2 linked regions of the Homo sapiens genome follow. The protein of the gene in region 1 interacts with the protein of each later gene in a pairwise test. Each region holds a gene or a part of one and is shown on either strand. Other genes may lie near its edges.

What was found. Proteins that work in one complex are often made in the same cells at the same time.
Region 2: the proteins of SUGT1 (region 1) and NOD1 interact in binary tests that used the Homo sapiens proteins (3 or more experiments, as listed by UniProt).

What each region holds. Positions count from the first base shown.
Region 1 is NC_000013.11:52,697,692-52,701,416, reverse strand, and holds the end of SUGT1 (protein SGT1 homolog), read right to left. Parts: 3' UTR 508-3,725; downstream 1-507. UniProt on the Homo sapiens protein: May play a role in ubiquitination and subsequent proteasomal degradation of target proteins.
Region 2 is NC_000007.14:30,476,901-30,480,651, reverse strand, and holds the start of NOD1 (nucleotide-binding oligomerization domain-containing protein 1), read left to right. Parts: upstream 1-1,867; 5' UTR 1,868-2,046; intron 2,047-3,751. UniProt on the Homo sapiens protein: Pattern recognition receptor (PRR) that detects bacterial peptidoglycan fragments and other danger signals and thus participates in both innate and adaptive immune responses.

The DNA of each region.
Region 1 (3,725 bases):
TGTATTCAAGGATGAAAATAAGGGTCTACTTTGAAAGAGAAGTGGACAGATGAGCATTCAATAAAGGAAGAGAGGGCAACAGGGAAGAATTACAAATTTCTTCACAACTTGGTACTACTAATTTCTCAAATTACTTTTAACCAGGCCAGTCTAAAAGTTGCAAATACAGCCCAGTTTGCTGTGCTGAATCTTGACTGAAATGTTAGTATGTGTGTATAGACTTATGTGTATTATTGGTACTTCATTAGATACTCATTTAATTCTCAGTAGTGGTACAAACCAATCCTGATGGAACATCTCAAGTTAGATTTCAAGGTCCTAGTTTGACTCGGAATGGAAGGAAATATGTGACAGCTGCCATTTAGTCAGCACATGGAAAATGTTTTCATTTTCTGGCTGCAAAAACTTGTGTGTTTTTACACCTCCCCTTCCACCAGCACCTCAAATAACTGTGACACTAAAAAAGTAGATATAATACTAAGAATAACCACTTAACCCACTCAACAGTTTCTTACATCAGATTTTATTATACTGAAATACAAGCTACATTTTTACAAAATAGAAATTCTTTGTGAGTGGATTGACTTAATTTTATTTCTGTATAAGCTAAATATGTTGATCTGTTTTATGAACATGTATTTTATAAAAATGGTCACAATATATTTTTTAAGTTAACTGATTTATTGAGGGAGGAGGAGAGAGTTGACCAAAGTCTACATGCATAGACAGTCCTAAAAGCGTATCTCAAACATGAAGATGTAAATTTGAGAGTTAATGATACAAATTTCAGCAAAAACATTTTACAGGCAGAGAGTGTTTTGGTGTTTATAAAAGCTGAACTCCTTTTGAAGGGCTTTTGTACAAATACACATGCTCATATACTATATGCATATATAGGTGTACTTCATTTTGAGAAAGTCCAGTATAATACTAGCATCAAATTTACAAAACAGGTTTAGTGTTGACTGACTGAAGAACTCACTACAGGTTTTACTTCAACTGCTTACATTCAAAAGTATTCAATTTACAAATTTTAGGTACTTACTGTGTAAGGTAAGTACATCTATACATAAATACTTTTATGCAGGTATAATATAAACATAGCAAATAGCTGAGGCTATTTTCTAAGGTGTTTGGCTTAGTGAACCTTTTTTACATCTTTATAGTTTTAAAGTCAAATACATAGCAGTCTTTATTTGGGTGTATGTTATCACAGAGGAATAAAAATCAGTAATGGGACTGGGAACAGTATACCCACTAAGTTAAATTAAGTCATTGGTTAAAACACCAAATTATTCAAAACCATTTAAGAGATATGCCCCACTAAATTCCCTCTGAATTTAGTCATTTACAGATGTTGTGTTTCGTATTCCTGTTCTCACCTTTGTGCCTGCTCCTTTGCAAACATTCTTTTCACACCAAATTCTTAGAACTGAATCAGAACTGCAGAAAATCCAACACCTTTTCTCTCCTCTGCACATGGCTACAAAAATTCTAATAGTAACAAGATAGTGTGAAAGACATACCTCTATATACTTTTTACTAGCATTGCATTTGCAAACTTACTTGAAATTACTTTTTTAAAAAAACAGGATTTCTATGGCGTCCTGTCCTTCAGGGTTCCTTCTAAGGTATGAATTGCTAAGAATTTTCTTTTCAGCTGCCTATATTTCATCAGCCTTGATAATTAATCATCTTTTATACTAAATTTGCCATATACTGACAAAGTCAAAGACCTGTAATAAACTAGACAAGCAAAAACTTTCTCTTAGCGGGACTAATGCTGTTAAAGGCAAATGGTTTCCTTTCCATTAAAACCATATTCCTGCCTGTTAAGTTACTGAGGTAACTCCAAAAAATTAAGCAGTAAAAAAGATCTCCATGGGATGTGCCCTAACACAAATTCTACTCGGCCTACTCAACCAGCACCGTAATTTTTAACATTCACTTAGCACCTATGGGTAATTAAACAGGCATCATCGGAGAATATTCCAGTTGCTAAATGGTACCCCATTATTAATTAGTACTATGCCATGGCTCTCTCTGAGTATTTCTCTGCTCAGTTCTAGTAATATCTTAGCAGTGATAAAAGTGTTTTGCCCAAATAGTTATTCTCATTTTGTTTCACTTTGATTGAAACAAACATTTGATTTTCTTTCATCATGTGCTGTCATACGGTGATATGGATTCAATAACTTAATCATAATGACCCCCCAAGATTAAGAAGAAAAAAAGCATCATTCAGCATCTCTCCTCTACCTTTTAATTTCTGTGTTAAGAGGGAAACAAAACCTTCAAAGGAGCAAGCCAAGTAGCTTTTCCTCTTCTCTAAACTTTACTGGAAATAAGGCATTAGAGGTGATTAGTGCTAATCTCACTTCTGTTCTCTCCTTTACTCCTTGACATCACTGTGTTCTACATGCAGTCCTCCAGGTCACCTGCTTCAAAACCATCAGTTCATTCAAAACAAAGATTTACTGGACCCTCTCTCAAAGGTACTGATTCAAAATCTCAGGAGGAAAGTAATGAAGGTCTACATTTTTAAAAATAAGCTTCCCAAGTGAAGGTTACTCACCAATAAGCTTAAGAACCACTACCCTATATATCATACAAAATAGCTGCCCAATGTTATAATTTTAGTTGTCCGATATCAGAATGTCAGCAGAGGATTAGGGCAAATCAGCTAAGCATGGTGGCTCACGCCTGTAATCCCAGCACTTTGGGAAGCCAAGGCAAGAGGATTACTTGAGGCCAGGAGTTAAGAGAGCAGCCCGGGCAACACAGCAAGACCCTGTCTCTACAAAAAAAATTTAAAAATTAGCTTAGTGCACTAGTAGTGCAGTCCCAGCTACCTGAGAGGCTGAGGCAGGAGGATCACTTGACTCCAGGAGTTGGAGGTTACAGTGAGCTATTGTGTGCCTGGACAGCAGAGCAAAACCCTGTCTCTTAAAAAAAAAAAAAAAAAAAAGATTAGGATAAATAAGTTTTAAGAGAGAGTCTATCACCAACGATCTGAGTGAGTTACATTAAAAACCTGTATGAAGAAAAAAGTATATGAGATGACAGCACTCTGGAAAAAGTGCATCTGTAAAACCAAACGTTTGGACTACATAGTATTTAAGATCCATTCCAGCTCCAAAATCCTGACTTCGTTTTTGTCTCCTCATACTGACAGTGGATGAAATGCAAATACATGTTTGCATTCCAGGGAATAAGAGGTTCCAAAGCTACCTCTAGTCTTGTCAGATGGCCCATAAAAACATGCTCTGTTGATCTGATTTTAACAACTCTAAAATAAAATCCTATGCTACACATATTCCTAAGTCCCTGTTCACAACCGGTCATTCTCCAATCTTGCCTTGGTACTTATTCTGCTGTAACTGTACTTATATTCCAGAACAAGAAATAGCTTTGCTAAACAAAGATTAGACTAACATATGCTATTACCTATAGTTTAATGTGTTAAGGAATAAACGGCAGACATAAGTTGAGTATTCAGGCTGAGGGCTTCTTTCCACCACCACAAGCTAAGCTCCATGAAGGCAGGGAATTTTGTTTACCTAGTACCTAGCACCTAGCTCAGTGTCTGATGCGTATTTGGCAATCAATGAATATTTGCTAAGTGCATAAATGAATGAGTGGATGTCATGAACCAAGTTCTTTTTCAGATACCTATATTATTCTACTACATACCTTAAAGTAAAGGCTCACTCAAAGAAAAAGTG
Region 2 (3,751 bases), on another chromosome or scaffold:
TATTTGGAACCATTGTTGAGTCTGTATTGGGGTCAAACGGTATTGCAGAAGAAAATAAGGCGTTTAGGTTTTAGGTCAGGTGTGAGTTGAAGAGGTTTTAAGTTCTTGAGAACACAGGCTAAGGGAGAAGAAGGGGGAATGGAGGGTGGAAGGTTGCCCATAGTGAAGGAGGCAAGCCCAGAGAAAAGAAGGTAGAGACCCGGAGAAGGGGGGTGGTGAGCAGCCCTGGGCTGCAATGTGGCTGAGCAGCCAAAGCAGGCGACCCACAATTGACTTGCCACCAAGGGAATGTGGGTGAATGACCAAGGCAGGCATCCCCACGGTGATCAGACACCAATGAAATGTACGTGAATAATCAGGCAGGTGTCCCTGCAGTGATTAAACACCAAGGGACGACTGTTTTCCTGAGTCCGTGACCGGAGCTGGAGTTTTGGGTCCATGGATAAAATATGTCTCCTTTGTCTCTACTAGAGAGGAGAAAGAACTGGAATTGGAAATAGAGGGAGATTTAAGGGTAGTGAGAGAGGCTGGAGAAGACAGTGAAAAGACCGCTTACCCGATTTGAAATTGGTGAGATGTTCCTTGGGCTGTTTGGTCTGAGGACCCGAGGTCATAGGTGGATCTCCTCACAGAGTGAGGGTGAGGACAGGGGACTGGTCTCCTGAAGGAGTCCTCCTGTCCCGGGTCTTCGGCACCAAATGTCACACGTGTCCGTGTGAAGAGACCACCAAAAGGCTTTGCGTGAGCAATAAAGCTGTTTATTTCACCTGGGTGCAGGTGGGCCGAGTACGAAAAAAAGAGTCAGCAAAGGGAGTTAGGGGTGTGGTAGCTTTATAGGATTTGTGTGGGTAGTGGAAAATTACAGTCAAAGGGGGTTGTTCTCTGGTGGGCAAGGCGGGGGCCGGGGGGGTGGAAGGTCTACAAAGTGCTCAGTGGGGGAGCTTCTGAGCCAGGAGAAGGAATTTCACAAGGTAATGTCATCAGTTAAGGCAGGAACCAGCCATTTTCACTACCTTTGTGATTCCTCAGTTGCTTCAGGCCATCTGGATGTATACATGCAGGCTTGGGCTCAGAGGCCTGACACAAGTTGGCACATTTGATCCTATCAACTTTAGTTTGCACTTTCACTTTTGATTTAAGAACATACTTTCTGTTTCTCAGAGGGCAGCCTCTGATGGGAATTTTAATACTCACAAGCATCAGTGGCTATATGATTGAATGTACTTCTTCAGTGTGAGTAAGTGACAACTTTCTGTAGCATGATATCCCTTATGGACACGATCCCCATTCAAAACGTTTTAAAACTATTTTATTGGGGACATTTATTAGCATGTTAAAACTCTTTTACAACCTATTAGAGCATATGCATAGAACATAAAATGTACACTGCCAAGAACAAATTTAAGGATAGGAAGAAAAGCTTACATTTTTTAAAAAGTATAAATTGAAATGTATGCAGTGTAATTTAAATTTGATTACGTTAACCTCCATTTCATCAGGACCACGTGTCGCGTTTTAACAAGAGTTTCCCTATCATGTCCAGGCTTTGGCTCTGGTTGCAGGCGCTGGGTAGGCACTTTTACGAGGAGGGACCTGGCACGATGGCACCACAAATTCCCAAGTGTGTCACCTCTGGGCGAACTTGGGCCTGTCCACTCGGCCCTGCGCGGTGGCCAGGGGCTCACCCTCTCGCACCGGGCGTCCCTCTGCGCGCAGCTTCTCTCGCCCCCCCGCGCCAGACCCGGGCGAATGGCAGCACCGTGGGACCCTGCCTTGACCGCCCCCGCCCTTCGGCGGCCTCTCCCAGCAGCCGGCAGGCTCTTGGGCGCGCCAACAGAGGGGCGCGGCTGCGGCTGTAGTCGCAGCCAGTTCCCGTTCCGGGCCCGCGAGGCAGCCGCCCCGGTCCTGCCCCTCCCTCGCGCTACTGCGGGAGCAGCGTCCTCCCGGGCCACGGCGCTTCCCGGCCCCGGCGTCCCCGGACCATGGCGCTCTCCGGGCTCTTCTCTAGCTCTCAGCGGCTGCGAAGTCTGTAAACCTGGTGGCCAAGTAAGTCCCAGCGACTGGGGATTCGCGCGGGGCAGGCCCTTTCTGAGGTCCTGGGCGCTGCGAGTGAGGAGGCGCAGGGAGGCGGGATTTGCGTGCGGGCGGAACGCAGCGCGGCTCTGGAGGAGCTCTGGGTGGAACCAAGCGGAGAAACCCGCGAGTTTGAAGCATGTAGCGAAAGTTGAGAGGGATGAACTTCACAGTCAGCGGAATCGTTTATCCCACTGTGGTCGAACGCAGGGGTTCTCAATCGTGCCAGCAGCTTAGAACCACCTGGGGAGCTTTTAAAATCCAGATATCCAGGCTGCACCCTAGATCAATTCCATCAGAATCTCACGGAGTCAGACCCAGGCCTCCGTATCTTTTAAAAGCTCCCCAAGTGATTCCAGTGTGCAGCCAGCGTTCGAGGGTTTGTGGCAAAGGCTGGAAGGGCAGACAGGGGCCTTCATGGAGTCCCGCCTGCAGACGGGACAGCAGCTCCCAGTGTCCTGCTTGGTCCTGGAGAGAGGGTGAGAACTTCCCTTGGGTTTCATGCTCCACAAAGTAAGGAAATGAGACAATGCTTGGCAAGGTCGCCTGAATATCACATTCAAAAACGCCTCCAATGTGTGCAGTTGTTTTGGCACATTGTGAAAAACATAGGAAATGACAGAGGTTGATGTCTCATTAGCTCTGCATTCTAGGAAACATTTCGGTTGTTGGTGTTTGAAATTAAGTCTGGGGAAGCTAAGCTAGTAAACCCATGGCCTTGATGACTTCTGGCCTTTCTGCTTTAAGGGTGAAGCCAGGGCCGGGCGCGGTGGCTCACGCCTGTAATCCCAGCACTTTGGGAGGCCAAGGCAGGCGGATCACCTGAGGTCGAGAGTTCGAGACCAGCCTGGCCCAACATGGTGAAACCGTCTCTACTAAAAAAAAAAAAAAAAAAAATTAACCGGGCGTGGTGGCGCATGCCTGTAATCCCAGCTACTCGGGAGGCTGAAGCAGGAGAATTGCTTGAACCCGGGAGGCAGAGGTTGCAGTGAGCCGAGATCGCCCTGTTGCGCTCCAGCCTGGGCAACAAGAGCAAAACTCCGTCAAAAACAAACAAACAAACAAAAAACAAAAAAACGGTGAAGCCAGAAGTCGTGCTTGCCAAAGGGTCGAGTTTGTTCTCCCTCAAAGCCCCTGTTGAAGATTGAACTATCACTTTCAGGGAAGAGTAAAAGAGTAACTCCACGATGCATCTTAGAGAGGAGTGGATTCCCTGTTCTCACCCAGGCTTAGATGCCAGGGGCCAGGTAGCTGAAATCCAGGCAAACCAGGCATTGACAAAGTACAGACTTCTACCGAATATGCCAGACAGATAAGCAAGCTGTGTTTAAAACAAACAGCAGAGTGGTAGAAGAGGGCTCTTTCAAATATTGTAAGAAGAGTAGGTTTTATTTTTGTGGAGTGGAGAAATAAGTTCACGCTTTGGAACCCATCAAATCTGGGTCAAAACTCGGATTCTGTCACTTCTATGCTGTGACTTTGGGCAAGTTCCTTGACCTCTCCAAGCCCCTGTTTTCCCACCTGTAAAATAAAGAGCAACCCTCTCCTGAGGCTAGCATAGTTCAGCGAGATGATGTGCATCACACACCTGGAAGGTGGTGGCGCTGGCAGGTGCTCTGGCAGAGGTAGTTATTAGACACTGGAGTGGCAGTTTGTGCCCGTTAATTGTTTACTTAGT